Linked DNA regions of Homo sapiens. The protein of the gene in region 1 interacts with the protein of each later gene in a biochemical or structural test. Each region holds a gene or a part of one and is shown in the gene's direction. Other genes may lie near its edges. The genes, in order: ZNF10, TRIM28 and CBX3.

What was found.
Region 2: the proteins of ZNF10 (region 1) and TRIM28 form a complex in vitro, tested with the Homo sapiens proteins (6 studies listed by BioGRID).
Region 3: the proteins of ZNF10 (region 1) and CBX3 form a complex in vitro, tested with the Homo sapiens proteins (one study listed by BioGRID).

The regions. Positions count from the first base shown.
Region 1 is NC_000012.12:133,124,508-133,136,414, forward strand, and holds the start of ZNF10 (zinc finger protein 10), read left to right. Parts: upstream 1-6,119; 5' UTR 6,120-6,247; intron 6,248-11,907. UniProt on the Homo sapiens protein: May be involved in transcriptional regulation.
Region 2 is NC_000019.10:58,542,965-58,551,215, forward strand, and holds TRIM28 (transcription intermediary factor 1-beta), read left to right. Parts: upstream 1-1,099; 5' UTR 1,100-1,793; coding exon 1,794-2,133; intron 2,134-2,460; coding exon 2,461-2,573; intron 2,574-2,799; coding exon 2,800-2,932; intron 2,933-4,411; coding exon 4,412-4,547; intron 4,548-4,632; coding exon 4,633-4,749; intron 4,750-4,827; coding exon 4,828-4,942; intron 4,943-5,069; coding exon 5,070-5,216; intron 5,217-5,329; coding exon 5,330-5,444; intron 5,445-5,521; coding exon 5,522-5,628; intron 5,629-5,775; coding exon 5,776-5,812; intron 5,813-5,897; coding exon 5,898-5,946; intron 5,947-6,023; coding exon 6,024-6,276; intron 6,277-6,366; coding exon 6,367-6,686; intron 6,687-6,772; coding exon 6,773-6,896; intron 6,897-6,984; coding exon 6,985-7,071; intron 7,072-7,182; coding exon 7,183-7,320; exon of another isoform or gene 7,321-7,412; coding exon 7,413-7,589; 3' UTR 7,590-7,751; downstream 7,752-8,251. UniProt on the Homo sapiens protein: Nuclear corepressor for KRAB domain-containing zinc finger proteins (KRAB-ZFPs).
Region 3 is NC_000007.14:26,203,837-26,214,935, forward strand, and holds the end of CBX3 (chromobox protein homolog 3), read left to right. Parts: intron 1-2,531; coding exon 2,532-2,674; intron 2,675-4,556; coding exon 4,557-4,719; intron 4,720-7,825; coding exon 7,826-7,920; intron 7,921-8,245; coding exon 8,246-8,372; 3' UTR 8,373-9,771; downstream 9,772-11,099.

The DNA.
Region 1 (11,907 bases):
AGCTACCAGCTACACTGAAGGTAAACTAGAATATCAAGAATAATGTGTAAAACTTTAAAGTTACCGAAGAAAAAAGGCTAATTATCTACAAGGGAATATCAATTATACTGACTACAGACTTCTCAGTTGCAAAGATAGAGGCCAAAAAGGCAATAAAATAATATCTTCAAAGTACTAAAGGAAAACAACAACAACCTAGAATTCAATCGTATGCTAAAGACTGAGAGCAATATAAAAGGCCTTTTATATTGCTCTCAGTCTTTAGCATACGATTGAATTCTAGGTTGTTGTTGTTTTATATGGGTGTTCTATATGGGTGTGTGTGTTAACCACTCAAGATAGTTCCTGAAGGAACTACTAAAAGGATGTAAGCTGAACTCAGAAGAAAGCAGAGGGGTGTAGGAGTAAAACAAAAGCAAAGAAGGAATTCAGAGGAAACAATGTAAGAAACAGAAAACAACAAACTTCAAAGCAACAACAGCATATTCAAAAGAGCACACAGCAAGGGATATTGGAATTAAAACAATATGGAGACATAATTTTTCTATGGAAAAACCATACAGACTTCAAATTGTATAAACATTATCTGGACCATGAGTCAAAGAAATGAATTTTAAAAATTCACGAGAAAACGGAAAAATCTGAACACTGCCTATACATTAGTTACTTATTTTTTAGAGACAGGGTGTCACTATATTGGCCAGGCTAACCTTGAAATCCTGGCTTAAGTGATCCTCCACCTTAGCCTCTGGCCTCCTGAATGGCTGGGACTACAGGCATACCCTCCCCACCCCATCCCTTGGCTTTTGCCTATAAATTTGATATAAAGGAATTACAAATTTTGCAGGTGTGAGACTATCCTACTTAAAAAGGAGTACTTATCATTCAGAGATGCATTCTGAAATATTTGCAAATAATATATAATGTCCAAGATTTGCTTCAAAATAGAACAATGGGGCCTTTTTCACAAGATGGCACTGATGGCGAAGAAGGAAACTCCTGTCTCTCCTATGGCTAAAGCCAAAGCAAAGGCTTTGAAGGTCAAAAAGGCAGTGGTGAAAGGTATTCACAGCAACAAAAAAAAAGAAGATCCGCATGTCACCCATCTTCTAGCAGCCCAAGACACTGAGGCTCTGGAGGCAGCCCACGTATCTTCAGAAGAGCACCCTCAGGAGAAACAAGATTGACCACCATGCTATCATCAAATTCCTACTGAGTCTGCCATGAAGAGGATAGAAGGTAACACACTTGTGCTCACTGTGGATCTTAAAGCCAACAAGCACCAGGTCAACATGCCCTCCTCACAGGCTTGTGAAGAAGCTCTATGACACTGATGTGGCCAAGGTCAACACCTTGATCAGGCCTGATGGAGAGAAGAAGGCATATGTTTGACTGGCTCCTGGTTCCCATGCTCTGGATGTTGCCAACAAAACTGAATAATCTAAACTGAGTCCAGCTGGCTAATTCTAAATATGTACATCTTCTCATCAGGAAAAAATAAAATAGGATGATTGGTACACTGTACTACTATATTTGTGTATGTGTTTGAAAACTTCATAATTTGAAAAATAATCAGAGAGATATTTCCTCTATGAAATAAGAATACAACTCTATGGATTTTTTTTAATTTCCCAGGAAGTTAAAAATTATAATTTAAAAACTCCCCAAAAAGGTACAAGGGTTAAAAGATAAACTTAGGGCCGGGCACGGAGGCTCATGCCTGAAATCCCAGTACTGAGGCGGGTGGATCATGAGGTCAGGAGATCGAGACCATCCTGGCTACTGTGAAACCCCATCTCTACTAAAAATATAAAAAATTAGCCGGGCGTGGTGGTGGGTGCCTGTAGTCCCAGCTACACGGGAGTGTGAGGCAGGAGAATGGCATGAACCTGGAAGGTGGAGCTTGCAGTGAGCCGAGGTCGTACCACTGCACTCCAGCCTGGGCAACAAAGCGAGACTCCGTCTCAAAAAAAAAAAAAAAAAAAAAGATAAACTTAAGGAACTTTTCTAGAAAGCTGATCTTGGCTGAACACAGTGGCTTACGCCTGTAATCCAGCACTTTGGGAGCCGAGGTAGGCGAATCACTTCAGGTCAGAATTCTAAGACCAGCCTGGCCAACACAGTGAAACCCCGTCTCAAATAAAAATACAAAAAAAAAAAAAAGCTAGATGTGTTGGTGCACACCTGTAATCCCAGCTACTCGGGAGGCTGAAGCAGGAGAAATGCTTGAACCCAAGAGGTGGAGGCTGCAGTGAGCCGAGATGTGCCACTGCACTCCAGCCTGGGCAACACAGTGAGACTCTGTTTCAATAAATAAATGAATAAATAAGTAAAGCTGATCTAAAAGAAAAAGTAAGAATAAATAAAAAAAGACCACTATATGAGCAATTTAAGGTACCCCAGATTACTCAGAGTTCCAGAAAGAAAAAACAAGAGGAAGAAACAAACAAGTACAGGAAAACTTTTTTTTTTTTTTTTTTTTTTTGAGACGGAGTCGCCCAAGCTGGAGTGCAGTGGCACAATCTCGGCTCACTGAAACCTCTGCCTCCCGGGTTTAAGCAATTCTCTGCCTCAGCCTCCGAAGTAGCTGGGATTACAGGCGCCGGCCACCACGCCCGGCTAATTTTCTTATTTTTAGTAGTAGAGATGGGGTTTCACCATCTTGGCCAGCCTGGTCTTGAACTCCTGACCTCATGATCCACCCACCTCGGCCTCCCAAAATGTTGGGATTACAGGCGTGAGCCACGGTGCCCGGCCAGAAACTTCTTATTCCTTAAAAAAACACAGTATCTAAGAACTGATCCATCAAAGCAAGTAATTTCTTTAAATAATTAGAACACACATCATCATGAAATTTTTGAATACCAAAGAGCTCCAAGAGATGATAAACAGATTACACATAAAAGAACAAGGTATGAAATAGGACTTCTCAACAGTAACAGTAACACTGCTCCATTTCCTATCTAGCTTCACTGGCTTTCAAAATTCTAATGGAAAGTAATTTCCTATTGAGATGTGTATACTCGGTGAAAACACCACACAAATGTGAGGAAAAAGTAATTTCTAATCATTTCTACAACTTTAATATATGTAGATCATATGGACCCTTTCTTCAAGGCAGTTAAGATTACAATCCACCAAACAGGAATAGAAGTGCTTTACAGGAAACAGGAGATTTAACACAGAGGTGAGATGAGGAAATTGATGAGGGCAAAAGGGAAGCCCAGTGGTATGCCAGCGTGCTGCATGCCTACAGAGTAACTGATCAATCTACATTGCAGGGGGATGTCCAGGAAAGGAGAAAAGTGATAAGACTGTATGACAGATTAGCCCTTGAGGAAAATGGAACCAAAAGACATTTTACATAGATTTAAGAAAAACTAAGCAAATGAATAAAAAAGGCAGTCATTAAAAACAAGAAAGGTAAACCTTGCACAAGAAAGAAACATATTATGGCTCAGTACTAAAGAGTAGTCATCAAATGAAAACACTGAACATATTTATCCAAAATTTGTGGGAGAACTACATTATAATATTTGTAAAATAATTACATTGTGATTTAAGGATGTAGAAAGAAGGCAGCCAAAGTTCTTATTTAACATGATAAAAATTTTAAAATAATGTCACAAATCGGTGAATAAAAAAATACTGAGAGGAGTTCGAAGCCAGAACTGCTTAAATATTTCCAAGTGGTTGCCACTGGGAAGAGATGGGGTTAAGGTGTTTCCTGTTTTTATTATGAGTCTTTTAACATATTCAGCTCTTAAAAATGTACACACACATTTCTTGGAGCACAAATAAAGAGTAGTAAATTAATTACCCAGTCAAATCAAGAAGCAGATGGCCAGGCACGGTGGCTCACGCCTGTAATCCTAGCACTTTGGGAGGCCAAGGCGGGCGGATTGCCTGAGCTGAAGAGTTCGAGACCAGCCTGGGCAACACCGTGAAACCCCGTCTCTACTAAAAAATACAAAAAATTAACCGGGCATGGCAGTGTGCGCCTGTGATCCCAGCTATTCCAGAGGCTGAGGCAGGAGAATGGCTTGAACCCGGGATGTGGAAGTTGCAGTGAGCAGAGATCCTGCCATTGCATTCCCGCCTGGGCGAGAGAGAGAGACTCTGTCTCAAAAACAAACAAACAAACAAAAACAAAAATTAGCTGGATTAGCCGGGCGTGGTGGGGCCTGAGGCAGGAGAATCGCTTGAATCCGGGTGGTAGAGGCTACAGTGAGCCGAGATCACGCCACTGCACTCCAGCCTGGAGACAGAGTGAAACTCTGTCTCGAAAAAAAAAAAAAAGTAGAAAAACAGAGACAAAGTAAAAGAAAAATTTAAAAATTAAGAGCAAAACTTACTGTAATAGGACCCCCCTCCCCAAAAAAGACCAAAACAAAACAACAAAAAAACCAAAACCAAATCTACATTTTTGAAAAGACTATGTACACATATACCTTATAGGAGTAATCAAGAAAAAAAGGCCTAGATAATTAGGTTCAAAAAAGAAAAAAATAACAATTACAGCAGTAAAATATTAAAAAGTGGTGATTTTAAAAATCACCATAGAAATTACTTACAGTGATAAAATAGCATGGGCAATTTTATGCCAATAAATTTGAAAAATTAGATTAAAAACAATTATCTAGGAAAGGTATCTAAAACAGAATACGAACTAAAAAACCTAATCAATGAGACTTTTTAAAAAATTGAGTCAGGGCCGGGTGCGGTGGCTCACGCTTGTAATCTCAGCGCTTTGGGAGGCCGAGGCAGGCTGATCACCTGAGGTCGGGAGTTCCAGACCAGCCTGACCAACATGGAGAAACCCCATCTCCACTAAAAATACAGAATTAGCTGGGCGTGGTGGCTCATGTCTGTAATCCCGGCAACTCACAAGACTGAGGCAGAAGAATCACTTGAACCCGGGAGGCGGAGGTTGCTGTGAGCCAAGATGGCGCCATTGCACTCCAGCCTGGGCAACAAAGAGCGAAACTCTGTCTCAAAAAAAAAAAAAAAAAAAATTGAGTCAGAAGTTAAATGCGTACTAAATATTTTAAGACCAAATAGCACCAAACTTTTGGAGGCGGGCGGGGGGCGGTGAGGGGTGGTGACCTGTTTTACAGAATAGAAGAGAGACTGTGCTGTCCAAATTATTCATGAAGCTTGTAAAATCTTGTTAGTATAACGGGCAAGGATAGTACACAAAAAGATTAAAACACAATCTTGTGAGCATAGGTGAAGTCAAAGGGAAACAGCCAATTGAATACACCAGAGTATTAAAGAAATAAAACCATATCGCATTCAACCACAGTATAAGGCAATAGGTGAAAAAAACGATGGCTGTGATTCAACTCATTACTAGGTTTAGAGATTCAAGAGAGGCTGCTGGACAGAGGCGTGCACCCTTTAGCCCTCCCGTGTTGCTTAGAGAAGGAGGCAAACGCGCATCCCCGGCCCCCCAGCGCTCCCTGCGTGGCACCCGCAGCCAGCCCGGGACCCCTCCGCCCCGCGCGCCCCTGGTCCCCACTCGCTCCCCGCGCTCCACTCGCACCCGGTAAGTAGCCCCTCCTCCCTCAAGGGCCTCTCCCACCGCCGCCTCCCGGGCAGGCTCCCTGCTGCTCAGACTCCCGTGAGGCGATCCCTGCACGCAGGAGAACTCAGCGGGCCAGGCTGATCCCACGAGGGACTTGTCCCGGGTGAACGAGCCACAGGCCCGCATGCTCACCCGTCCTCAGTGCCTGCCTCCAGGCGTCCGCGGTCCCGCCCGAGGGGGACGCGAGGCCGAACTACGTTTCCCAGGAGCTCCTGCGCCGCCCCGCAGAGGGGCCTGGTCTGTGCGTCACGGACGCGCTCTGGGCCGAAGGCCCGCAGGGTCCGGCACAGAGTGGCGGCTGCGGCGCCGGCGACGAATCGCCGGCTCTAGGGTCCCGGGGCGCGCGGCTGACGGGCTGGGGGCGGAGCGTGGCCTGAACGCCAGGCTGGGGCGCGTGCGTAACGGTGTGTGTTGTGGGTGCGTGTGCGTGCGTTCGCAGCAGGGGCGGGCGTAGGACCAATGGGGGCGGGGCGCGTGCGCGTGCGTGACGTCAGGCCACGGGGAGGTGGCGCCGCCGTGCCGAGCCGGCCTCAGACTCACCTCTGACGCCGCTCTTCGCGCTCCGCTGGTGAATGGAGTCGCGTTCTCTGTTTTGCTGTTGCTGCTGCCTTTGTGACGGGATCGCTTTCTCCCATCGAACCTTCTAGTTGCTTATTGCAGGTATATACGAAAGTGCTGAATTTTGTGTTTGCATCGTCATCAGGCGCGTGTTGAGCCCTTTAGTAATGTAGCAGTGTATTAGCTTCGTATTTCTAGGTAGACGGTAATTTCGTCAATGAAAAAATTTAACGGTGATCGTCACCCCTTGCCTCAGTCACTTTCTGTCCCTCGCGCGGCCCCGGCGTTCACGGCGGACGTTCTTGTTCTGTGGAGAATAACGGCTGCACCTGGAGATTGACGCAGAGTGGGCGGCGGTGGTGGTAAGTTTGAACCAGATATTTTCAGTAATACAAAATAAGGTTTCTTCTAGTCTAACTTCCATTTTTCCCCCCAGCTGGGATAGATGTTTAAAATTTTGCATATGGCCTTTCTAGTATTTGTTGAAATAGTGACGCCGATTCGTGTGTGGTCTTTTAAAAACAAATCCTGCATCTCTAGCTCTTAGCTTCCTCATCTTTGTTTTGTTTTTTAATCAGATAGATTAACTGAAGGCGTGTTTGTGTGGTTAATCTATTTTTTTTATTTTCAGAGACAGATCATAAGTTTAATTACTATATTTTTATTTTCCCTTGACACTAGATATATATACGCCATCTAACACATAATATGAGTGTCAAAGATAAGGTTAACATCAAGATTTCGTACGTAGATCCCACCCAAAGTGTATGCAGAAGGTGAACAATTTCAATTCCAGCTATACATTAATTGCAGAAAGATACTGTTAATTAAAAAAAAAAAAGTAAAAGGGAAGGCAGGATGTCACCCAGAATGCCAGCCAACAAGTGTTATTAGGTTAGAAATGACTGCAGTTAGGTCTCCGAGAACTGGATAGCACAAATCCTCCCTACCCTTTTGAAAATTACCTCCACACTAACTTTTCTCTTGTGACATAACTAATCTCTTCTGTTTTACTAAAATTGTCCCCCATCTTCCAAAGCCTCTTGGATGGTAAGTTGCACACGCTCCTGCCTCTTTTTGAAAGTTACATTTGTTTTTTGATTACTTCTCTCAGCATGCATTTCTTTAGCTCTTAGTATATGCTAGTCACAAGGGCAGAGATTTGAGATACACATCATAAATTAAATGAGAATTTCTGCTTATCAGTATTTTATATAAGCACTGTCTGGAAATTCTACTTAGGACAATATTTAAGTAGATATGAGGCTTACCTTCTGGAAAAGAGATTACAAAATTATCCTTGTTAATTAATTAACTAATTAAGTCCCCAAAATGAGAAGAGATTCAATTACTATCAATAATTTGTAGTAAAGTGACTGAAAAGGAAATATATAAGCTAATAGATTGATTGCCGTCCTCAACAAGTTAGCACATACTTTTATTTTTAAAAAGTCTTCACAATAGGAAGAAAATAATTTTAGCTAGAAATATATGTGAACTATATGAGAAAAACTTCAAAACCTTACTAGGCAATTCTTACTAGAAGAATAAAGGATGAGTAAGAATAAAAACAGTTCTGTTTATAGATTATATTCAATTGTCAAGAAAATCTGAGAATTTTTTTTTTTTTTTTTGAGATAGAGTTTTGTTCTTGTTGCCCATGCTGGAGTGCAATGGCTCGATCTTGGCTCACTGCAACCTCTGCCTCCTGGGTTCAAGCAATTCTCCTGCCTCAACCTCCCTAGTAGCTGGGATTACAGGCGCCAGCCACCATGCCCAGCTAATTAACATATGCCAGTCACAAGGGCAGAGATTTGAGATACACATCTTAAATTAACAAGAGCAACAAGAGCGAAACTCCGTCTCAAAAAAAAAGTATTTTAAGGAAAAAGAAATTTCTTATTGTTAATATCTCTGTTGTGCCTACAAGAGACTCTTTTACTTTCATCAGCAGTACTCTTTCTAGCATGTCTCATGTCAGCCAGGGCTTTTAATTCTTCTGGCTATGAAGCAAGGTTGGGACAAGATATGATATAGGCCACCTTTGTCTGTGTATGTGCCTCTTTGACTCGTAATGAACATCCAAGAGCATTATTTTTTCCTCTTTCCACACAATATCTCCTTGCTGACTGATCCTAACATTTCCTGTTCAAAATTTTATTATGAAGAATTTTGAGCATACAGCTAAATTAAAAGAAGTTTACAGTGAATACTTATAAACCTTCCCATCTAGACTCTACCATTAATATTTTACTGTACCTAATTTTAACACATACCCATCTGTCCCTCTTTTTATCCATCAGTTCATTGTATTTTTAAATTTTTTTCAAAGTAAATTGACATGGGTACGTATTCCTTAAAAATTTCAGAATACGTATGTATTATTAATTAGAATTCTATATTTGTTTAGATTTTTCTTTAGATGTAAAATTTACATAACATGAAAAGCGCAAATCTTAAGTGTACATTTGCTGAGTTTTGACAGATGCAGGATCTTTGCCTTTTGTATCTTTAAGTATATCTTTGCCATGTCTATTGGTTACCGAGTTTTAACTTTGTGGCTGCTGGGTCCTTTTTGCTGATCATACCTTGCCCTTTGCTGAAGCAAATACTGGTAAACCTATTCAGAACTTGAAGAGACCCTGTTCTCTTTATTAATGAACATGTACTCCATGTCCCCAAGTGAAATGCGGTTCCTGACGAGGTTGTACCTGTCAATGTGAGTGCTGGTTAAGTATAGTCACATGTCAGAGTGAATGAATATGAAGTGCTAAGCACTTTGCTAGCCTCTTCCCAGGATTTAGAATGAGATTGTCCTAATTCTTAAGTGGTTCACTATCTCATAAGGGAGACAGACAAATCTTGGTACCGTAAGGCAGCGTTGAAGTGCTGGAATAGGGCATGGGCAGAGTCCTTCATGTTTACGGATGATAGAACCACTGATCCTCTCTGAGATAGTGGGAAGGCGTCACAGCATAGATGGCATTAAAGTGATCCTTAGAGAATATGGGGCAAGTGTAGTGGGAGTTAAGTTGAAAAGGGTCCAGAACGTTGTTGTGAAACTTGTACGCTAAGTGTTTGATTGGAGCTGTGCTTTGGAACTGCGTGTGCCTCAAATAGTAACTTTCATAGCCTTCTTGCCGATACTTGGAGCTTCTTTTCAGCCCATCTCTGCCCTTGTGGCAGCCAAAATAATGGCTCCCCAGAGATATCCCCAGCACCTGGGAATATTTTACCTTATACTGCAAAATAAAATTTGCAGTTGTGATTCAATGAAGGATCTCAAGATGGGGAGAGATTATCCTGGATTATTTCAGTGGGCTTAGTGTAATAACAGGGGTCCTTAAAAGTAAAAGAGCTGGGTGGCCGGGCACGGTGGCTCACGCCTGTAATCCCAGCACTTTGGGAGGCCAAGGTGGGGAGATCACCTGAGGTCAGGAGTTCGAGACCAGCCTGGCCAACTTGGTGAAACCCTGTCGCTACTAAAAATACAAAAAAAAAAAAAAAAAAATTAGCTGAGTGTGGTGGTGGGCGCCTGTAATCCCAGCTATATGGGAGGCTGTGGCAGGAGAATCACTTGAACCCAAGAGGCGGCGGTTGCAATGAGCCGAGATTGCTTCACTGCACTCCAGCCTGGGCAACAGAGCAAGACTCCCTCTCAAAAAAAAAAAGTAAAAGGGGGATAAGAAGGTTAGCAATCAGGGAAATATAACCATGAAAGAAAGGCACAGAGAAATGTATCATTGCTGGCCTTGCAGGTGGAGGAAGGGTCAGGAGCCAAGGAGTGTAGATGGTCCTAGACACTGGACGGGGGCAAGGAAATAGATTCTTCTCTAGAGCCTCCAGAAGGAACACAGCTCTGCCAACACCTTAATTTTAGCCCTCCGAAACCTGTATCAGACTTCTGACCTCCAGAATTGTTATGTAACAAATGTGTGTTGTTGAAAACCACAAAGTTTTGATAATTGGCAGCAATGGAAAACTAATATAGCCCTCTGTCCTTAAGAGTTTACCAAAATAAAAATAGTCTCCCTTTCTCTGGCACTATGTTTTGACTTTGCCTCAGAAGAAAAATGGAGTGATTATAAATATTTTTTGTGACCACTCTGGTAGAAAATATAGACTTTATTGTAACATTTATGTTCACAAATAGAATTATATAGTCTTCTAGGAGATTTTACCATTTGGAGGTGGGAAGAAAAATCTCTTTGCAAATGTAAAGCTCACATTGTGGAATGGCTGTTGCTGTGCTTTCTAACTCCTAACATTGGACCTTTTCTCATCGTTGTTCCAGTTTTTCCTTCCCCAGGAAGTTTTGCAGATTTCCCCAGCCACATTTCCTTTCTCCATTCTCTTCATGTCTGTGGTACTAGACTTTTAACATCCTTCCATGGTTACAATCTGCTTGAGGGAGGGAAATTATTCTCATAGTTGTGTTCCTAACATCTTAAAAAGAGCTTCTCAGGTAGGGGACGCTCAGTCACTCTTGATAGCTACCTGAAATGCCTTTTGATCTTAGTGTGCGCATATAGAATTGTCTTTTGCCTTTCATGGGTCTGCCTTGTCTTACTGGGAAGATTATTGGATCTCAGAGCATCCAGACTACCTCTCATCTTTTGTTCTTACACAGCAGTGACCAAATAGTAAGTTGGGCTCCAAACTCTGCACTGTGAGCTGGGGAAAGGGCACTCAATGCTCCCTGAATACCAAGATCCATTATGCTGCTGCAGCCAAAACAGGAAATAAATAATGCTGGACATCATCAGGCAGAGGATTTGAAACAGCTTTCCTCTGTGGCATCGCAGTGTTCCAGGACTTCGTTATATGAGCTGAGCCTACCTTGCCTTCTCATCTCTGGAGGCTCTTCACTTCACTCTGCTCATGTCATCACTCCTGTGTGTCTCAGACTTCCACTCATGACCCAAACAGCACAGCCTCTGCAAACTTCGGTATCCCTCTTTCTGACTCTTACCCCTTGTTCTCCTGGCTCTTTTTATGTCCTTATTCTCACGACTCTTCTTGGAGGTTCTCCTCAAATCTGTCAGCTCCTTCCTTGACTCATGTCTATACCAAAACTAGATCCTGTTGTTGATTGCACACATTTCTCACATGAGGCATTCTTACTTCTCTTGCTCTGCATTACCTGCACACATAGAAATCCCAGCCCAGAACACTGCACAGTTTGCCTTTTCTTCTGTTCAGGCAGCGAGTGCTGCTTGAGGAAATCACAGCTAGGCAGACAAGTATGACAGACATACTCTCCGTAACCTCAGCTTATCTTTTGTCAGCAGCTTTTGCTAGTTTGTCACTGCATGGCCCAAACCTTTATCACTGTCCTCAATGATCATGGCCATCTGTTGTTCCTCTCATTGTTAGCAAATAGCCTTGCTTTCTTTTTTGACTCACATTTCTATTGAACTGCCTGCTAATTGTCAACATCCCACCTATCCTGACTTCCAGGAGGTAGGAGAGAATGAAGCATCCTTCTTCCTTTAGAAGCCTGATGCCTTCATCAGAGATTTGACCCCATCCTTCCCCCCTTCTCTCTCCTCTAGTTCCAACTCCCTTGTCTATTAATTGCTTCCTCTGTTTTTAGTCTCCACTCTGACCCCACCACCTCTTCTACCTGCCCTTTCTCTTCCTTCTCCACTTCCAAACTTTTCATTCCTATTGTGGAATTTGTCTGCTGTTTCCACTAGTGTATTGAAACTGATCTCCTCAAATTATTAGTGAAGGCTTATCTAACCAATCCAATACCTTTC
Region 2 (8,251 bases), on another chromosome or scaffold:
CAAAGTCAGGGTAGCTGCTGACGAAAACATGGGGAGGGGATGCCTTGGGGGGCTGGGTGGGATTTCACAGACTCATTGCTCTTTAGCCTCTTGTGATTTATATATATGTGTATATATATATATATATTTTTTTTCTTGATGGGGGGTTGGGGGGCCCGGCGTGGTGGCTCACACCTGTAATTCCAGCACTTTGGGAGGCCAAAGTGGGTCTATCATCTGACGTCGGGAGTTCGAGACCAGCCTGGCCAACGTGGTGAAACCCCGTCTCTATTAAAAATACAAAAATTAGCCAGGCGTGATGGCAGGCCCCTGTAATCCCAGCTACTCGGGAGGCTGAGGCAGAAGAATCGCTTGAACCCGGGAGGCGGAGGTTGCAGCGAGCCGAGATCGTGCCACTGCACTCCAGCCTGGGCAACAGAGCAAAACTCCGTCTCAAAACAAACACAAAAACCTTTCTCTCCTCTTTTGAGATGGAGTTTCACTCTTTTCTCCCAGGCTGTAGTGCAATGGCACGATCTCGGCTCACTGCAACCTCCGCCTCCCGGGTTCAAGCGATTCTCCTGCCTCAGCCTCCCGAGTAGCTGGGATTACAGGCGCCTGCCACCACGCCCGGCTACTTTTTGTACTTTTAGTAGAGACGGGGTTTCACCACGTTGGCCAGGCTGCTCTCGAACTCCTGACTTAAGATCCAACCGCCTCGACCTCCCAAAGTGCTGGAATTACAGGCGTGAGCCGCCGCGCCCGGCCACATTTTTCTCCATCTGTGGTCTAGGCTGGCGTGCAGTGGCACAATCCCGCCTCACTGCTGCCTCGGCCTCCTGGGCTAAACGGAGCTTCCCGACTCGCCTAAGAAAGTGGTGGGATTACAGGTATGAGCCACGGCGCCCGGCTGTGATCTACATTTGATTCAGTCAAGTTTCTGTGTTTCTCAAGTTTAACTATAGCGTGGTTAAAATCCAAAAGTCAGCACCCGAGCTCACACAGGAGCTTCCTCCCTCTTGGGATGGAGACTCTCCTCCCCTCTCCCTGGACACAGCCCTTCACTCGGTCTTGGCCCCGCCTACTTCTCCATCGGCCCTGCCCCCTATCCCGAACTCTTAGTGACGCAGAGGCTGGAGACGACTCTACGGCGGCGAAGAGACGCGGGTTGAGGAAGAGGGACGGATTGCCCATGCGCTTGGGCGCACAGCGGCCCGCTTCTGTGTGGTCTGGAGGTGGAGCTGAGAGGGGAATCACACTCTATAAAGGTTCGCATACCCCACTGGCGGATTCAATTGCGGCAGTGACGTCACAGAGGCCCCGCCCCGCCCCCACAAGAGCCCCACCGACGTGGGGTTGGCGGTGGTGGAAGGACTAGGAGTTGGCGCGTGCGTACTGGCGGCCTCTCCCGCACCGACCGGCCTGGGCCCCGCCCCCGGGCGTGAGGCGCCCAATGCGCGTGCGCGGCGGCGTCGGCGCCAGTTATTTCTGTCCCGCCCCCCGGCCTCGGCTCTTTCTGCGAGCGGGCGCGCGGGCGAGCGGTTGTGCTTGTGCTTGTGGCGCGTGGTGCGGGTTTCGGCGGCGGCTGAGGAAGAAGCGCGGGCGGCGCCTTCGGGAGGCGAGCAGGCAGCAGTTGGCCGTGCCGTAGCAGCGTCCCGCGCGCGGCGGGCAGCGGCCCAGGAGGCGCGTGGCGGCGCTCGGCCTCGCGGCGGCGGCGGCGGCAGCGGCCCAGCAGTTGGCGGCGAGCGCGTCTGCGCCTGCGCGGCGGGCCCCGCGCCCCTCCTCCCCCCCTGGGCGCCCCCGGCGGCGTGTGAATGGCGGCCTCCGCGGCGGCAGCCTCGGCAGCAGCGGCCTCGGCCGCCTCTGGCAGCCCGGGCCCGGGCGAGGGCTCCGCTGGCGGCGAAAAGCGCTCCACCGCCCCTTCGGCCGCAGCCTCGGCCTCTGCCTCAGCCGCGGCGTCGTCGCCCGCGGGGGGCGGCGCCGAGGCGCTGGAGCTGCTGGAGCACTGCGGCGTGTGCAGAGAGCGCCTGCGACCCGAGAGGGAGCCCCGCCTGCTGCCCTGTTTGCACTCGGCCTGTAGTGCCTGCTTAGGGCCCGCGGCCCCCGCCGCCGCCAACAGCTCGGGGGACGGCGGGGCGGCGGGCGACGGCACCGGTAAGTACGAAGTGATCGGTGCCACCCCTCCCCCTACTCTCTGCCTTTGATTCCGACTGGGTGCAGAGATGAGGATGCCACCTGGGCGAGAGGATGGGGGCCCGGACAGGGCACGGGAAATACTTTCTGGGTCCTGCATACGAACGTGGGTTTGTGCTGGCCGCTGAGATGGGACATCTGACTAAAGTTGGAGAAAAGAAGGCTCGGGGAGGGGAGGGGCTGGTTCGCTGCGGGATAATGGTCGGGGGCCCACCCAGCAGGGGAATGGTGGGGGCCATAACCTGGGTGGGAACTTGTAACAGTCTCCCACATCCCTGCTTCTCGAAGTGGTGGACTGTCCCGTGTGCAAGCAACAGTGCTTCTCCAAAGACATCGTGGAGAATTATTTCATGCGTGATAGTGGCAGCAAGGCTGCCACCGACGCCCAGGATGCGAACCAGGTGCGTCCTATCTCAGCAACCACAAGGAGGTTTCTGGGGAGGGGGCATCTGCGCAGGAGGAGCTTGGCACCAGCTCCAGGCTGTTACTCCACTTTCCCAAGGCTCTGGGTGGGCTGCCTAGGTTGGGTCAAGGGACCAATCTTAAATCTCCGGTTGTATTTTCTGGGATGTAAACGTGGATCTATCAAGTTGTCTTGCCTTCTCTGACCCTGCCTTTGTCTGGCAGTGCTGCACTAGCTGTGAGGATAATGCCCCAGCCACCAGCTACTGTGTGGAGTGCTCGGAGCCTCTGTGTGAGACCTGTGTAGAGGCGCACCAGCGGGTGAAGTACACCAAGGACCATACTGTGCGCTCTACTGGTACATGAGGCTGAGGGGGGCTGTTGGAGTTGTTCTCCCATGTGTGCCCTCAGTTGCTTTTATGATGTTGGTTGCATCTGGTGGATGGGTCCTAGAGTTCTCTAGGGGGTGCCGCCCGAAGGGCCCGAGGGCAGAACTCCAGAAGCAGAAAAACTGGGGTTGTGGTGTGTAGTCTCTAGGGCCTAGGTGGGAGAGGGTGGGAAGGGGAAATAAGGGAGACCTTAATGTGCTGCAGGGAGGTACAAAGGGTTTGAGAAGGCTTATCAGGGAGTTGTCAGACCTGGTGGTGAAGGGCTCAGCATATGCAAACAGGGAAAGGCATGGTGTGAAGGGCTTTCTGGGTTTGTGGTTCCCTGGCACACATCTGGTATAAGATGCTGCTAGGGAAAGTAGACTGTGGGTCCATGGATTATAAGTGATGATGATTTTTGGAAGTGTTTTAGCTTTTGAGTTGGCAGAGACTTACCCAAAGTTTGGTTTGGCATTTCCAGCTTTTCACAGACACAGCTAGCTTTGGTTTGGAAGGAGCTTGAGAGTCTTTTGAGTCTAGCCAAGTTTTGGGGCCAGAATCCTCCCATGAGTGGCCTTTTGGTAGCCATACTGTGATTCTTCCCATCCCAGAGGACAGCATTGGTGGAAGATAGCGGGAAGGTGGTGGCTGTGGGGCCTGAGCAGCCAGGAGGGATACGCAGGGGCTGCAGGGTGTCCTACATTCCAGACGTCCCAGGCAAAGGTCAGGGTGCAGGAATGAGTGGCATTGGGGAAGTCAGTTTCCCCAATGAGCCCTGATGCTACATATTTTGGATTTGGTTGGTATGTGGGACCAGTGTGTTTGATCAGTTTTCTAATGGGGAGACAGGCTTTGGAGGTTATTAATGGGTTGGTCTTTGGGTGGGATTATGCTGAGCACCAAGATTCTGCTCTAGAGGGGGTGTGACCACCATTCTGAGGGTCCTGGTTTGACATTTCATCTCTCCCAGTATGAGAACCTCTACAAGGTTTCCTCTGGGCCCTTGGATTGTAAGAGACCCTGGTGTTCTCTTGTCAGGGAAGAGGGAGGAAGTTAACCATGAAAGGAGAAGAAAAGGAATCCAGGGTGGTGTGTAGGCAGAATTCTGAGTATGTCCACTTGGAGAAGTGTTCAGTAAAGGGAACAGTGTGGGGAAGGGTCAGCGGGGGTGGGGGGTGGGGTGGGGTGGTCCTCTTTTTCTAGACGCTGTTATCCTTACCCTTACATTGTTGTTATCTCTAGAAGCTAGAAGAAAGGGATGTGTTTCTCAGCTATGTTGGGGCAGAGGATTCTGGGAGCAAGGAGTTGGGCTTGCAGGCCTGTGTTCTTCCCTGGCCACACCCTCTACATCTTCCCAATAAATGGCCCAGTGTCACAGAACAGGCCGGAAATGAGGCCCCAACTCATTCTGCTTCCTGAGTTGGGGGTGGTGAAGGGCAAGGTCCAGCCTTATGATTCCCACTCCCCAGGGCCAGCCAAGTCTCGGGATGGTGAACGTACTGTCTATTGCAACGTACACAAGCATGAACCCCTTGTGCTGTTTTGTGAGAGCTGTGATACTCTCACCTGCCGAGACTGCCAGCTCAATGCCCACAAGGACCACCAGTGAGTCCCAAGGCATAGTGGTTGGGTGGGTGGGTGCCACCCCTTCCGTAGCTTAGTGCTCAGGAACACATCTGTCTGCTCTCAGGTACCAGTTCTTAGAGGATGCAGTGAGGAACCAGCGCAAGCTCCTGGCCTCACTGGTGAAGCGCCTTGGGGACAAACATGCAACATTGCAGAAGAGCACCAAGGAGGTTCGCAGCTCGTAAGTGTGGGTTCTGGGGCTGTGGGGGTGGCCCAGGGCAGCAAGACCCTACCTAGCCTGACCTGCTGTGTCCCCTAGAATCCGCCAGGTGTCTGACGTACAGAAGCGTGTGCAAGTGGATGTCAAGATGGCCATCCTGCAGATCATGAAGGAGCTGAATAAGCGGGGCCGTGTGCTGGTCAATGATGCCCAGGTAAGCCTTGTGCCGGTGAGAAGGGTCCCTGAGCCCCCTCTGCTGATTGATGATGCTGTCTGGGGTGAGGAGTGATCCTAGTATTCTTCTGCCTTCTCTGCTTACCTCATACACCTTCTATCTGCAGAAGGTGACTGAGGGGCAGCAGGAGCGCCTGGAGCGGCAGCACTGGACCATGACCAAGATCCAGAAGCACCAGGAGCACATTCTGCGCTTTGCCTCTTGGGCTCTGGAGAGTGACAACAACACAGCCCTTTTGCTTTCTAAGAAGTTGGTGTGTACTGGTGGGCTCCTGGCTGGTGGGTTCCAGGCAGGTGGTTCCCAATACCTCAAATCCCTATTTGTTGTTGGTGTGCTCATTCTTTCCTCCCTTTCACTCCCAACCAGATCTACTTCCAGCTGCACCGGGCCCTCAAGATGATTGTGGATCCCGTGGAGCCACATGGCGAGATGAAGTTTCAGTGGGACCTCAATGCCTGGACCAAGAGTGCCGAGGCCTTTGGTGGGTCCCCAGCTTTACCTCACTCTGTTATTACCCCACGTGCTGCACCTACTTACGTTTCTCTCTTCTTTTTGCAGGCAAGATTGTGGCAGAGCGTCCTGGCACTAACTCAACAGGCCCTGCACCCATGGCCCCTCCAAGAGCCCCAGGGCCCCTGAGCAAGCAGGGCTCTGGCAGCAGCCAGGTGAGCAGGAGAGAGGACCCAGGAAGGGGTGGGCAGGGAATGGGGTCCAGTAGCAGGAGAGAGGACCCAGGCAGGGGGGGTGGGCAGGGAATGGGGTCCAGTAGGGTTCCTGTCCCACTGAGGCAGAGGGTTCTGCTTTGTTCACAGCCCATGGAGGTGCAGGAAGGCTATGGCTTTGGGTCAGGTGAGTGGGTCTGCCTAGTGGGTGGGGAAGGGCCCCAGTGCTGTTTCTACCCCAACCTGCCAGTCTTCTTTCTCCATTTTCTAAGGAGATGATCCCTACTCAAGTGCAGAGCCCCATGTGTCAGGTGTGAAACGGTAAGTATGGCACCTCCCCTGGGGGTGAGGTGGATGGAGGGTGGGGGTGTACTCATGCCAGGTTGCTGCATCTACAGGTCCCGCTCAGGTGAGGGCGAGGTGAGCGGCCTTATGCGCAAGGTGCCACGAGTGAGCCTTGAACGCCTGGACCTGGACCTCACAGCTGACAGCCAGCCACCCGTCTTCAAGGTCTTCCCAGGCAGTACCACTGAGGACTACAACCTTATTGTTATTGAACGTGGCGCTGCCGCTGCAGCTACCGGCCAGCCAGGGACTGCGCCTGCAGGAACCCCTGGTGCCCCACCCCTGGCTGGCATGGCCATTGTCAAGGTAAGCCTGTCCCAAGGAACTATAGCTGTAGGATGAAGCCTGTAGTCCAGGTCTGGACCCTGTTGAACACCCCTCATCACCACCTTGCAGGAGGAGGAGACGGAGGCTGCCATTGGAGCCCCTCCTACTGCCACTGAGGGCCCTGAGACCAAACCTGTGCTTATGGCTCTTGCGGAGGGTCCTGGTGCTGAGGGTCCCCGCCTGGCCTCACCTAGTGGCAGCACCAGCTCAGGGCTGGAGGTGGTGGCTCCTGAGGGTACCTCAGCCCCAGGTGGTGGCCCGGGAACCCTGGATGACAGTGCCACCATTTGCCGTGTCTGCCAGAAGCCAGGCGATCTGGTTATGTGCAACCAGTGTGAGTTTTGTTTCCACCTGGACTGTCACCTGCCGGCCCTGCAGGATGTACCAGGGTGAGTGTGAGGCTGGTGGGGGTCAAGTCTGGGTGTTGGGCTGTCTGGACAGGATCATGTGCAGACCCTTATTTTCTTCACCCTAGGGAGGAGTGGAGCTGCTCACTCTGCCATGTGCTCCCTGACCTGAAGGAGGAGGATGGCAGCCTCAGCCTGGATGGTGCAGACAGCACTGGCGTGGTGGCCAAGCTCTCACCAGCCAACCAGCGGGTGAGGGCTGGGGTTACTTAGGTGGGGTTGCCCAGAGAGGCTTTATAGGTGCTGCCCAGAGCTGTGACATCCCTTACAATGTTTGTAGAAATGTGAGCGTGTACTGCTGGCCCTATTCTGTCACGAACCCTGCCGCCCCCTGCATCAGCTGGCTACCGACTCCACCTTCTCCCTGGTGAGTCCTAGGATGGGAAAGGGGAAGGGGGTGGTGGCTGCTGGGTCTCGCCCTCAACCTGTGCATGTATATGTGTGTCTTTGTGTGTGTATGTGTGATCTCTGCCTGCAGGACCAGCCCGGTGGCACCCTGGATCTGACCCTGATCCGTGCCCGCCTCCAGGAGAAGTTGTCACCTCCCTACAGCTCCCCACAGGAGTTTGCCCAGGATGTGGGCCGCATGTTCAAGCAATTCAACAAGTTAACTGAGGTGAGCCAGTGGAATGGAGAGGCTGTGGGCAGGGGGAGATGTGAAGGAAAGAACTAGGACCCATTCATCCACTGCATTCCTGCTTGGCCCAGGACAAGGCAGACGTGCAGTCCATCATCGGCCTGCAGCGCTTCTTCGAGACGCGCATGAACGAGGCCTTCGGTGACACCAAGTTCTCTGCTGTGCTGGTGGAGCCCCCGCCGATGAGCCTGCCTGGTGCTGGCCTGAGTTCCCAGGAGCTGTCTGGTGGCCCTGGTGATGGCCCCTGAGGCTGGAGCCCCCATGGCCAGCCCAGCCTGGCTCTGTTCTCTGTCCTGTCACCCCATCCCCACTCCCCTGGTGGCCTGACTCCCACTCCCTGGTGGCCCCATCCCCCAGTTCCTCACGATATGGTTTTTACTTCTGTGGATTTAATAAAAACTTCACCAGTTCCTCAGGCGTTGGCTGGTTGGGGGACTGTGGTCCTGGGGCCTGGTTTATTGACTGTATCTACTAGTCAGCCTTATCAAGCACTGGTGGCACAAGGGAGGGGGGTCTTGTCCCCCACCTATCGAAGCCCATGTGTATGGATGCCTAGGGAGTGGGGAAGACTGCCTCCTTGCCCTTTCTGGGTATGGGGAGGGTCACCCAGGGCAAAGGATGTACACACTAGAGGCTTGTTGGGTACCCTGTGGGATACTGGGTAGGTGTGACCTACATCCCTGTGTAGGCAGGGTTAGCCCCAGGTGTAGCACAGCCACTCTACTGAATGCTTCCTAAATTTTGGTGCTGTAGCTGTTTCTCATCTTCAGAAGGTCCCACAGTGAACTGAGACCTTCCAGATGTGGTTTTTTTCCCTGTCTCCCTTTGCTGAGTCCACTTAACATTATCATTCATCTCTGTGTTATGATTTAGTTACTCTACAGTCGAGCCTGTGTGAATCCCAAGGCCA
Region 3 (11,099 bases), on another chromosome or scaffold:
TTTTAATTTGTGCCATCATTAGATTCTGCATTAAGTCTGTTTACCCTGCATTAGATTCTGCATTAGATTCTGTTTACCCTGGAAAACAGAAGTTGTTTTTGCACGCAATTGATAGCCTTTGGGGTCTGTTATTGTATTTAGTTTATTTTGTGAAGGATCACAGGTTGGCCACTTTAAAAGTTCTTAACTTTCCATTTTAAAAATTCATTAGTGTTGTGAGATATGTGTGCTGTTAATTTCACTTAAATAATGGGAAATTTATTTTGACTCATCCACTTTTGGAAAAAAGTGCTGGGTTAAGGCAAATATATACTATAAAAGAAAATAGTGAGCATTTGAAACTAGCTTATGAATGCCATAGTAGTGAATGAATACTGTATGGCATTTTGTCTGCCTTTTTTTTTTTGTAAACCTTAGTGTGTATCCTTTTCATTTTCTGTATTTATTGTTGACTTTATTTTGTTAGCCTTCTCCCTTTGTGGCAGTAGCTGTTTTGTTTTTCATGTAGTATAGGTATCTGATACACTTCTGTCTATTACAGTTTGTCTTTGCTCCTCCCACCATTATTCCTACCTTCTTGTACTGTACAGTGGCAGAAAGCTGTTTGGGCCCAGTACTCAAGTATCTTGACTAATGAGAATCATAACACCTGACTTAGAAATGGTATCCAAAAACGTCAGGTGTTTGCTGCATGTTTTTGTATTTCAGGGGATTTTTATTTTGTGTGTGTGTATGTGTTACCTATATGCTTGCATAGCTTGAAATGCCCTTTTGCAGTCTTGAGGCCTTTCTTACATATCTGTCTGCACACTTCATATGCCTGCATAGCTTGAAATGTCCTTCTGTAGCCTTGAGGTGTTCTTAACTTTTTTCTGCTTGCTGCTTTACTTGTGGGATGGCTTTAATGATTGAGCAATTAAGGTTTATCTTTTTTAAATAGTATTTGGGTTTTTTGTTTTTGTGTTTTTTTGAGACAGAGTTTTTCTCTTGTTGTCCAGGCTAGAGTGCAATGGCGTGATCTTGGCTCACCGCAACTTAAGCCTCCTGGGTTCAAGCAGTTCTCCTGCCTCAGCCTCCCAAGTAGCTGGGATTACAGGCATGCACCACTATGCCTGGCTAATTTTGTATTTTTAGTAGAAACGGGGTTTCTCCATGTTGGTCAGGCTGGTCTCAAACTCCTGACCTCAGATGATCTGCCCACCTCGGCCTCCCAAAGTGCTGGGATTACAGGCATGAGCCACTGCCCCCGGCAATAGCATTTGCTTTAAGATGAAATGTTAAGATGGATTCCTTCTCAGCCCATAGGATCTTCTGATTAACCATTTCAGGGTTTTTTTTCCCCCATTTTTAATCCTCTCATAAAAATTTTCCCCATTTTTAGTCCTCTCATAGGAAATCTTGAGCCATTGGAAAGAGCTGGTTCACGTTGGTTTCCTGCTTCTCTTAAATAGTGTCATACCAAAGAAAATGCCTGTTTAAAGTGAATTTGGTTACCAGTATAGACTTTCTCTTGAGAAACCAGGAAGGAAGGATTTTTTTCACCTTAGGGAATTAAAATAAATTTGTAATGTTGGTCTCTTGAAGTGATAGCTTTATAGTTTTGTTCTAAGTGGTAGGAAATATTATCTACAGAGATTATGGAAAAATAATCTTGTCCTTTAATTGAACCTCCTAGTGGTCTCTATAGTTGACCCTGCAGTTGGTATCAGGATTTTGAACCATGTTTTCATTCTGCATTTATCTTTTCTCTGTATCATTGATGCTTTTGACATTAATATTTGAATTGAGAAGGGGGCTGGGGCTTTTACCATCTGGGGGTGGATACAAGGTCTGTCATAGGTTCACCTAAGACCTGTCACTACTACTTGCTTCTCTGTATCACCCTTTAGGTACTTCCTGCATAGTTGTTTGTTGCAGTGTTGTTAAAATGAGTGAAAATTAGTAAACTTGGTCTTTTAAGACTACAGGGCCGGGCGCAGTGGCTCACGCCTGTAATGCCAGCACTTTGGGAGGCCCAGGCTGGTGAATCACTTCAGGTCAGGAGTTTGAGACCAGCCTGGTCAACATGGTGAAACCCTGTTTCTAATAAAAACACAAAAAAAATTAGCCCGGCATGGTGGCATCCGCCTATAATCCCAGCTACTCTGGAGGCTGAGGCATGAGAACTGCTTGAACCTGGGGAGGCGGAGGTTGCAGTGAGCTGAGATCACGCCACTGCACTCCAGCCTGGGCGACAAGAGTGTGAGACCCTGTCTCAAAAAAAAAGACTGGAAAAAAATAACTGTTTCCAGATAGTGTTTTTTTATTGTATTATTTTGGTGGTGGGTTGTAAGTTTGAACTAAATGAACAAGATAAAGCATTCTTTTATTTTATTGTCTGTTGACTTTTAATCTTTCCAGAAGGTGTCTGCCCTGGGATATAGAAGTAAAAATTTATGTCGAATGTGATAATAATATAAGCAATTGAGCCTTGAAAATGTGCTCAAAATTCAAGAGGAATATTTCTTAATTTCTCTTTTGTTTTATTTTAGCAAAAAATGGGAAAAAAACAGAATGGAAAGAGTAAAAAAGTTGAAGAGGCAGAGCCTGAAGAATTTGTCGTGGAAAAAGTACTAGATCGACGTGTAGTGAATGGGAAAGTGGAATATTTCCTGAAGTGGAAGGGATTTACAGAGTAAGAAACTTTAGTGCATCTTTACTATATGTTTAACTGCAGCTAAGTGGTTTTAGAATTTGTTTTTAACCTGGCTCTTTTACCTGCTTTCCTGTAGGTGTCTTTAAATGTAAAGACACTTTGAATTTTAGGTGTCTCATTTGAGGTCTATTTCAAAAGAACCAAGACTTTATTGTACAGTTGAAGGTGAGCAGACTAGAGACTAGTTTATTACCCTGGGGAGTCAAATTTATAAAATTATGGAGTGTAGTTTACTATGTAATATATTTTAATGTGGTTAGATATTACACTAATTAGAATAATCTGCATTATTTTCCTCCACACAGAGGGTGCTAAAAACATTGAAGCTTTACAATATAGACTAGTGGGTCTCATACAGGATTACATATAATCTAGGCTTTATACTAGGTTTATTATATCCTTATACCTAAGAAGTAGAACCTGGGCATGTTTTAAGCTCTCTGGTTCCTTGTGTTCTTTGATATGGATTGCTCTCATTATTCTTGATAATGTTATTCACAAAATGTGAATAACTTGAACATGCAACAATTACATACTTTAACGCTTGGGGTTTGTTGTGCTTATCTGCTTTGATTCTTCCCCCTTACACCACAAAGCTCCATAGGCAGTGACAATTAAAAATGGATAGGTGGAGATCAATTTCCTGAGCACGCTGGAGATGGAGCATATGATAGTCGAATGATTGGGCTTCACCTATCTGTTATCTCCTACTTCCCCTGCTCTTCACATTTAATTCATAGCAGTTTGGGAATTATGAATTGAATGGGAGATTTACGTTTGCCTGTTTTATCCTTCAGTATTCTTAGTTTAAATTAAGTATGTGTCGTAAGTCCCTTCTTTATTAAGCCCATGAAACATGAAAAATTATTTTTACCCATCAAAACATTAGGAAATGAATGGGCTCCTCCCTCTTCTCCCAAAACTTAAGGCCACTAGCATGATTATAGCGTACTTCCCATGTGCAGTGTAACAGGTAATGTAAAAGACTTTTTTTTGTTTTGTTTTGAGATGGAGTCTCACCCTGTTGCCCAGGCTGGAGTGCAGTGGCGTGATCTCAGCTCACTGCAACCTCTGCCTTCCGAGTTGAGGCGATTTTCCTGCCTCAGCCTCCTGAGTAGCTGGGACTACAGGCGCCTGCCACTATGCCCGGCTAATTTTTGTATTTTAGCAGAGACCGGGTTTCACCATGTTGGTCAGGCTGATCCCAAACTCCTGACCTCAAGTGATCCACCTGCCTTGGCCTCCCAAAGTGCTGGGATTACAGGTGTGAGCCACCGTGCCAGGCCAAAGAAGACTTTAATGAAAATAATACTACAGAGCAGAGACTTTTATTGTCCTCTACCCAGTAATTTGGGTTTACTAATTTGGAGTCTCAGGGTAGCAAATTAGAATATAGGGCCTGGGTGCAGTGGCTCACACCTGTAATTCCAGCACTTTGGGGGTCCAAGGCTGGAGGATCACTTGACACCAGGAATTCAAGACCAGCCTGGCCAACAAAATGAGACCCCTTCTCTATTAAAAAAAAAAAAAAAGTGTGTGTTTTAAGTTAGCTGGGCATGGTGGTGCATGCCTGTAGTCCCAGCTACTTGGGCTGAGGTGGAGGATCGCTTGAGTCGGGAGTTGGAATCTTCAGTGAGCTATGATTCCACTACTGCACTCTCGTCTGGGCAACAAAGCAAGACCCTGTCTCTGGCGGAGGCAGGCTGGGGGGTGGGGTAATGTAGGGAAGGAGGAAATGATTAGTATCTGCAGTACAGAGGACTTTTTATTCCCCCGGGTGTCTATTAAAATAGATCTGGATAATGGTGATGAATCATATTTAATTCAATCACCTTTTTTTTTTTTAATAAACTAAACACAGTGCTGACAATACTTGGGAACCTGAAGAAAATTTAGATTGTCCAGAATTGATTGAAGCGTTTCTTAACTCTCAGAAAGCTGGCAAAGAAAAAGATGGTACAAAAAGAAAATCTTTATCTGACAGTGAATCTGATGACAGCAAATCAAAGAAGAAAAGAGATGCTGTAAGTATAAAATATTGCCCACCAGCTTGTCCTTTTGTAAAAGGTTGATGGCTTGATTTCTTTTTTGTTTGTTTGTTTTTTTGAGATGGAGTCTTGCTCTTGTCGCCCAGGCTGGAGTGCAATGGCATGATCTTGGTCACTGCAACTGCCGCCTCCTGGGTTCAAGCGATTCTCCTGCCTGAGCCTCCCAAGTAGCTGGGATTATAGGTGCCCACCACCACGCCCAGCTAATTTTGGTACTTTTAGTAGAGATGGGGTTTTGCCATGTTGGCCAGGCTGGTCTTGAACTCCTGACCTCATGATCCTCCCGCCTCGGCCTCCCAAAGTGTTGGGATTGTAGGCATGAGCCACCACGCCTGGCCTTTTTTTTTTTTTTTTTTTTTTTTTTTTTTTTTTCCTGGGAGACAGAGTCTCCCTCTGTCACCCAGGCTGGAGTGTAGTGGTGCAGTTTCGGCTCACTGCAACCTCCGCCTCCAGAGTAGCTGGGATTACAAGCGTGTACCACCACACCCAGCTGGTTTTTGTATATTTAGTAGAGACGGGGTTTCACCATGTTGGCCAGACTGATCTCAAACTCCTGACATCAGGTGATCCACCCGCCTCGGCCTCCCAGAGTGCTGGGATTACAGGCGTGAACCACCACACCAAGCCCACCTTTGACGACTTGCTTTTTTAAAATTCAGATACTTTTATAAAAGGCCTCTTAATCGTATTTTAAATATTTTAATACTTAGGACAATAAGGATGGGCGTGGTTTAGCCTACTTTGTGTAAATGTGCAGTAAGTGCTCATGCCACTTAGGTTGTGCTAGTGCAATTTTTCTTAGTTTCATGGATTTGATCCCTGATCAGACCAATTACCTGTGATCCAAGGCTAGCAATCTTAAATACAAACAATACTAAGATTGGATTATCGAAAGCCTTTGCACTACAGTAAGAACAACGCAAATAGAACTTTCTGATTATAGTCCATCAATGGCATTGACCACCGAAAAGTACTTGCATGTCATCTTTGTATTGCCAAACAATACCTTGATTTTGAAGTCTGTAATCTTTGATAATAGTTAAACACTTTTCTTGGCATGAATTGAGACATTCAGTTCATTCACTATACATGTGTTTTGGTCCAGTCTTTGCTTTACTTATGTCTCTGTGGCGTCAGGCAAATCAGGTAACTTCTTACTTACACCCTTGATTGTAAAACAGATTATACTTGTCTTGCCTACTGACCTAGTGTGGCAATTTGGGGAAACATCTTGGTGCTGAATTAGGTTCTAGGCTCAGGCACTAAACATGATTTAAAACTTGATCATTTGAACTAGAAGCCAAGTACAACCTTCAAGACAACTCTGTATAAGGTCATAGGTATAATCACTATTTTACAGATGAGGAAACGAGATTGACTACAAATTTGGTTTTGAAAATAAATCACATGCTCAACAGAAGCAGTTTTGGCCAGGCACGGTGGCTCGCACCTATAATCCCAGCACCTTGGGAAACCAAAGCAGGAACATCGCTTGAGCCCAGGAGTTGGAGGCCAGTTTGGGCAACATAGTGAGACCCCATCTCTACAAAGAAAAAAAAAAGAATCAGCAAGACGTGGTGGACACCTCCTGTAGTCTCAGCTACTTGGGAGGCTGAGGCAGAAGGATTGCTTGAGCCTGGGAGTTCAAGGTGCAGTGAGCTGTGATCATGCCAGTGCACTTTGGCCTAGGCAACGGAGCAAGACCTTGTCTCAAAAAATTATTAAATAATAAATCAGGCACAACTTTAACAACACTTATTGAGTCCTTAGCATGTGCTATACTGTGTGCCAAATTATTTGCTTTTAATGTGCTGTGAAATATCTGTGCAGTAGATACTAAAATTCTGTTTTATTAACCTAAACCACAAAGAGGTTAATTAACTTGCCCAAAGCCACACAGCTCGTAAGTGGGGTAGGTCCATCATTCTCACCCAGGCAGTGTGACTCCAGAGCTTGTGACATTGATGTAAAACTCTGACAGGAATAAAGGATTTATTGATATCATTGGTTCTCAAACTTTTTTTGGTCTCAGGGCCTCTTTATACTCTAAAAAAATTATTGAGGATCCCCAGAGAGCTTTTGTTTATATGGGTTATAATTATCAATACTAACAGTAGAAATTAAAACAAATTTCTAAAATGACTTTTCTAAAAAAGCTGAGAAGAGTAGCATTTTACATTTTTACAGATATTCAACATGTGTCTTAAGGCAATTTTACTTAAACACATTTGATTGCTGTGGCGGATCATTTTGGTGGAGGTATATGAAGACAATCCAAAGTCACAAATAGATGAAAAAAGGGGGCCTTACACAACCCCCTCCCAAAAAGGACTCTGGAATCCCCAGTGAATCCGTAGACCACATTTTGAGAGCCACTGGTTTATATTAAGTACTTTCTAGCGCAGGGGGTCCAATCTTTTGGCAGCCCTGGGCCACATTAGGAGAATTGTCGAGGGCTACACATAAAATAGACTTAATACCAACCATAGCTGATGAGCTAAAAAAAAAAAAAAAAAAAATCGCAAGAAAGTTTCAATGTTTTAAGAAAGTTTACAAATTTGTGTTGGGCCTCCAAAGCCATCCTGGGCCACAGGTTACACAAGTTTGTTCTAACATTTACTATCATTTAGAATGATTACAGATAGTTGGTATGAGTTTTAACATTTTTAATATTTCTTACCGTTTGTGTTTTGTTTATGCTTTTAAAATGTGTCAGTAATTCAGACTAATTCCTGGAAGTCATTTGAAATATATTAACTTTCAAGACTTTATTATTACCAGAAATAAAGAGGTTAGTTTTTCTGTATGCCCACACAACTCTGACTTTGGTGTCATTGAACGCAGTAATTTTCTTGACTTTTTATTCTGAATGTTTTCAGAAATTTTAAGTATTCTACGTTGAGTATCAAACTCAGGTTTTTCTGCTTGTAAAGTTAATGGAAATCAGATGTTTTTAATTACCAAATATGGGTTCTTGCTCTAGTCATTTCCATCTCACTATTGGAATGTTTTTATTTAAAATACGCCATGAAAACAATTTAATACTCTGAGTTTGCTGTATGAAAAAATGTCTTCTAAACAGGCTGACAAACCAAGAGGATTTGCCAGAGGTCTTGATCCTGAAAGAATAATTGGTGCCACAGACAGCAGTGGAGAATTGATGTTTCTCATGAAATGGTGAGTATGCAGAGATTGTTACATTTGAAAGTAAGAGTAGCTTTTTTTTTTTAATTTGTGAAATGGTTTTTCATCATTAGGTAGGGAAAAACTATCTGCTGAGAGGATGATTCTGGTTACTTTTACTAGTAGTGTTTTAAAGCAAGGGTCAGCAAACTGTGGCCTGTTTTGAAAATGAAGTTTATTAGAACATAGCAACAAGTAACATAACTCTCCTGGAGCACTTCAATACCTTTTGTTTGGACTATTATTTCTTAAATGAATGGCTGTCGGTTGACATGAACAACTTCGACTTGTAACTGAATTTTTCTTTTTCTTAAAACAGGAAAGATTCAGATGAGGCAGACTTGGTGCTGGCGAAAGAGGCAAATATGAAGTGTCCTCAAATTGTAATTGCTTTTTATGAAGAGAGACTAACTTGGCATTCTTGTCCAGAAGATGAAGCTCAATAATTGTTCACATTGTTCTTTTATATATATTTATATATATATATAAAAATTGGGTCTTAGATTTTGATTTACTAGTGTGACAAAATAACTACATCCTAATGAAAATCAAGTTTGATATGTTTGTTTTGAAAGTAGCGTTGGAAGAGTTGTTGGGGGTTTTTTGCATCCATAGCACTGGTTACTTTGAACAAATAAATAAAAGCTTTCTGTAGTTGCTTCCTTTATCAGAAAAGAACATTTGATACCATGGTATATCATTTCCTCTTCATTAAAGAACAGCTTTTCTAAATGTTGGGGGAAATGTCCATAGTCATTACTCAGTCAAAACTTGTGTTCTCATGAGCCTAAGGACCATTCTAGATTTATTACGTGTTTTTTGTGTGTGTGTGTGTGTGTGTGTGTGTGTGTATCCATAAAATGCATATGTAAATTTTTTTTTGTTTTTAAGCATTCACCCAAACAAAAAAATCACAGGTAAACCCATGTTTCTGAGATGCCATTATTCCAAGCAAAATAAGAGATAATCCCTTCAAGTTAAATTGAAAATTTTCCTGAAACCATACATTTCAAGTGAAATAAGTAATTCTAGATAGGACAATTTAAATTGGATAATTTTAAAGTGTCTATAATTGCAGTGGTTTATTTGCAAAATTCCTAAAAGGAAAAATTTTATCACTGCCATCACAGCAGGTTTCCTCATCCAGATGAGGAAACTAGACAAATGCTAGTGTGTTTTAACTAGCTAAACAAAACTAAGTTAAATGAACATTTAAAAGTTTCCCTAGCGGGCCATTCCTTAGCAAAATGTTGGAATCCCTGTTGCTACATTGACTAAAAGGTCATGATGAATGGAATATGTAAGACTTGGCTCATAGAAACCTAATCAGATGGTTAGAGGTGTTGGCAGTTTAGGACCTGCTGTCATAAATGTGTGAACAACCTTTTGTAACCTAACCTATTGACCTGCATGTTTTTTCTTTACCCCAATTCATTACATGGAGGCTCAATCTTGAGTTTGCTTTACTGGTTCAGCAAAAGCCAGGAAGAACAACTTTGTAGTAATCAAAATGTTATCCAACTGTATATTGTTTACTTTATTGTAAATACTGGTGAACAGTGGTTAATAAATAGTTTTATATTCCTTTATGCAATTATTAGACTTTTTTCTTTATTTGATATGCCTTTACAGTAGAAATAGAAATGCCCACACTCATTGGATTATCTTTGTTTATAAGTTAGATGATACCAGTAAGGCATTACAGTACATATCCTAGATCTTTTGAGCTTACGAGTTTTAAACTTGAATATGTATTTCCACAGGAATGTTTCCACAGTTGGGAAATAAAAGTTTCATGTGATGCCTAGGGTCAATTGTCTCATTAAAATGAGGTTTTAAATTCTGGTTTGTTGTAACTGTCTTCTAAAGAATGTAAAGTATTCTGATAGGGCTCAGTGTGATGATAGACACATTTTAATTGATTTCCAAAATCCATACAGAAAAAGGTAAATAACTGATGTTTATTAAGTACCTCCTTATATATATATATATATACCCACCACTGCTCTCAGCGGTGGGTTCACAGATGATAGAGAACCTTCTATTCATATTAGTAGTTGGTGGCCCTACATTCAATTTTACTAAGGGCATTTCTGAAAACAATATATTGTCCTTTGGCCATGCATGGTGGCACACACCTGTAATCCCAAAATTTGGGGAGGCCAACGCAGGAAGATTACTTGAATCCCAGAAGTTTGAGATCAGCCCGGGCAACAGTGAGACCCCCACCTCTACAAGAAATTTTAAAATTAGCTGGGTGTGGTGGCTTGCACCTGTAGTCCTTGCTACTTGGGAAGGTCCCTTAAGCCTAGGAGTTTAAGGTTACAGTGAGCTCTATGTCAATACCACTGTGCTCCAGCCTGGATGACAGACTGTTTCTCAAAAAATTTGAAAAATATTGTTTTTTTATATTCTCTAGTGTTTGTATTAGTTTCTTATTGGTGCTTTAACAAATTACCACAAATTTAACCCATTTATGGCTGAAAATAGTTCTGTAGGTCAGAAGTCCAAAATTAAGCAAGCTGAAGTCAGGTTATCAGGGGAATTCCTTCTGGAGGCTTTGATGGCAGAATCTTTCCTTCTCTCTTCCATTTCAAAAGGCCACGTATATTCTTTGGTTCCTGGCCCTTTCCATCTTCAGAATCAGCAAGCAGTGGAGCATCTTGCATCATCTTTCTCGCCCTTCCTCTCTTCCTCTTTCCATCTCTCCTGTCTACCACGGTGTATTATGGAAGGATTGAGCCAAACCATTCATTCAAATTCTTGAATTCCTGGAGCTTAGATCTTTAGCTGAAGAGAAAACCCTTTTTCTATCATTTCTACCCTCTGATGTTTATGTAATAGGCTTCTTGTAACAACTCAGATGCTACAGAAGTAAGGCCACCTCATCAATTTCCTTGCTTCAAACCCGAAGTTCAATTGATACCCATATCTCTGGATTTCAAGACCAGCCTGGCCAACATAACAAAACCCCCTCTCTACTAAAAATACAAAAATTAGCCAGGCATGGGGGTGTGTTCCTGTAATCTCAGCTGCTGTGGAGGCTGAGGCAGGAGAATTGCTTGAACCCAGGGAGCGGGGGTTGCAGTGAGACAAGATTGCACCATTGCACTCCATCCTGGGCGACGAGTGAAACTCAAAAAAAATAGTTTTTAACAAAAAATATATTTGCA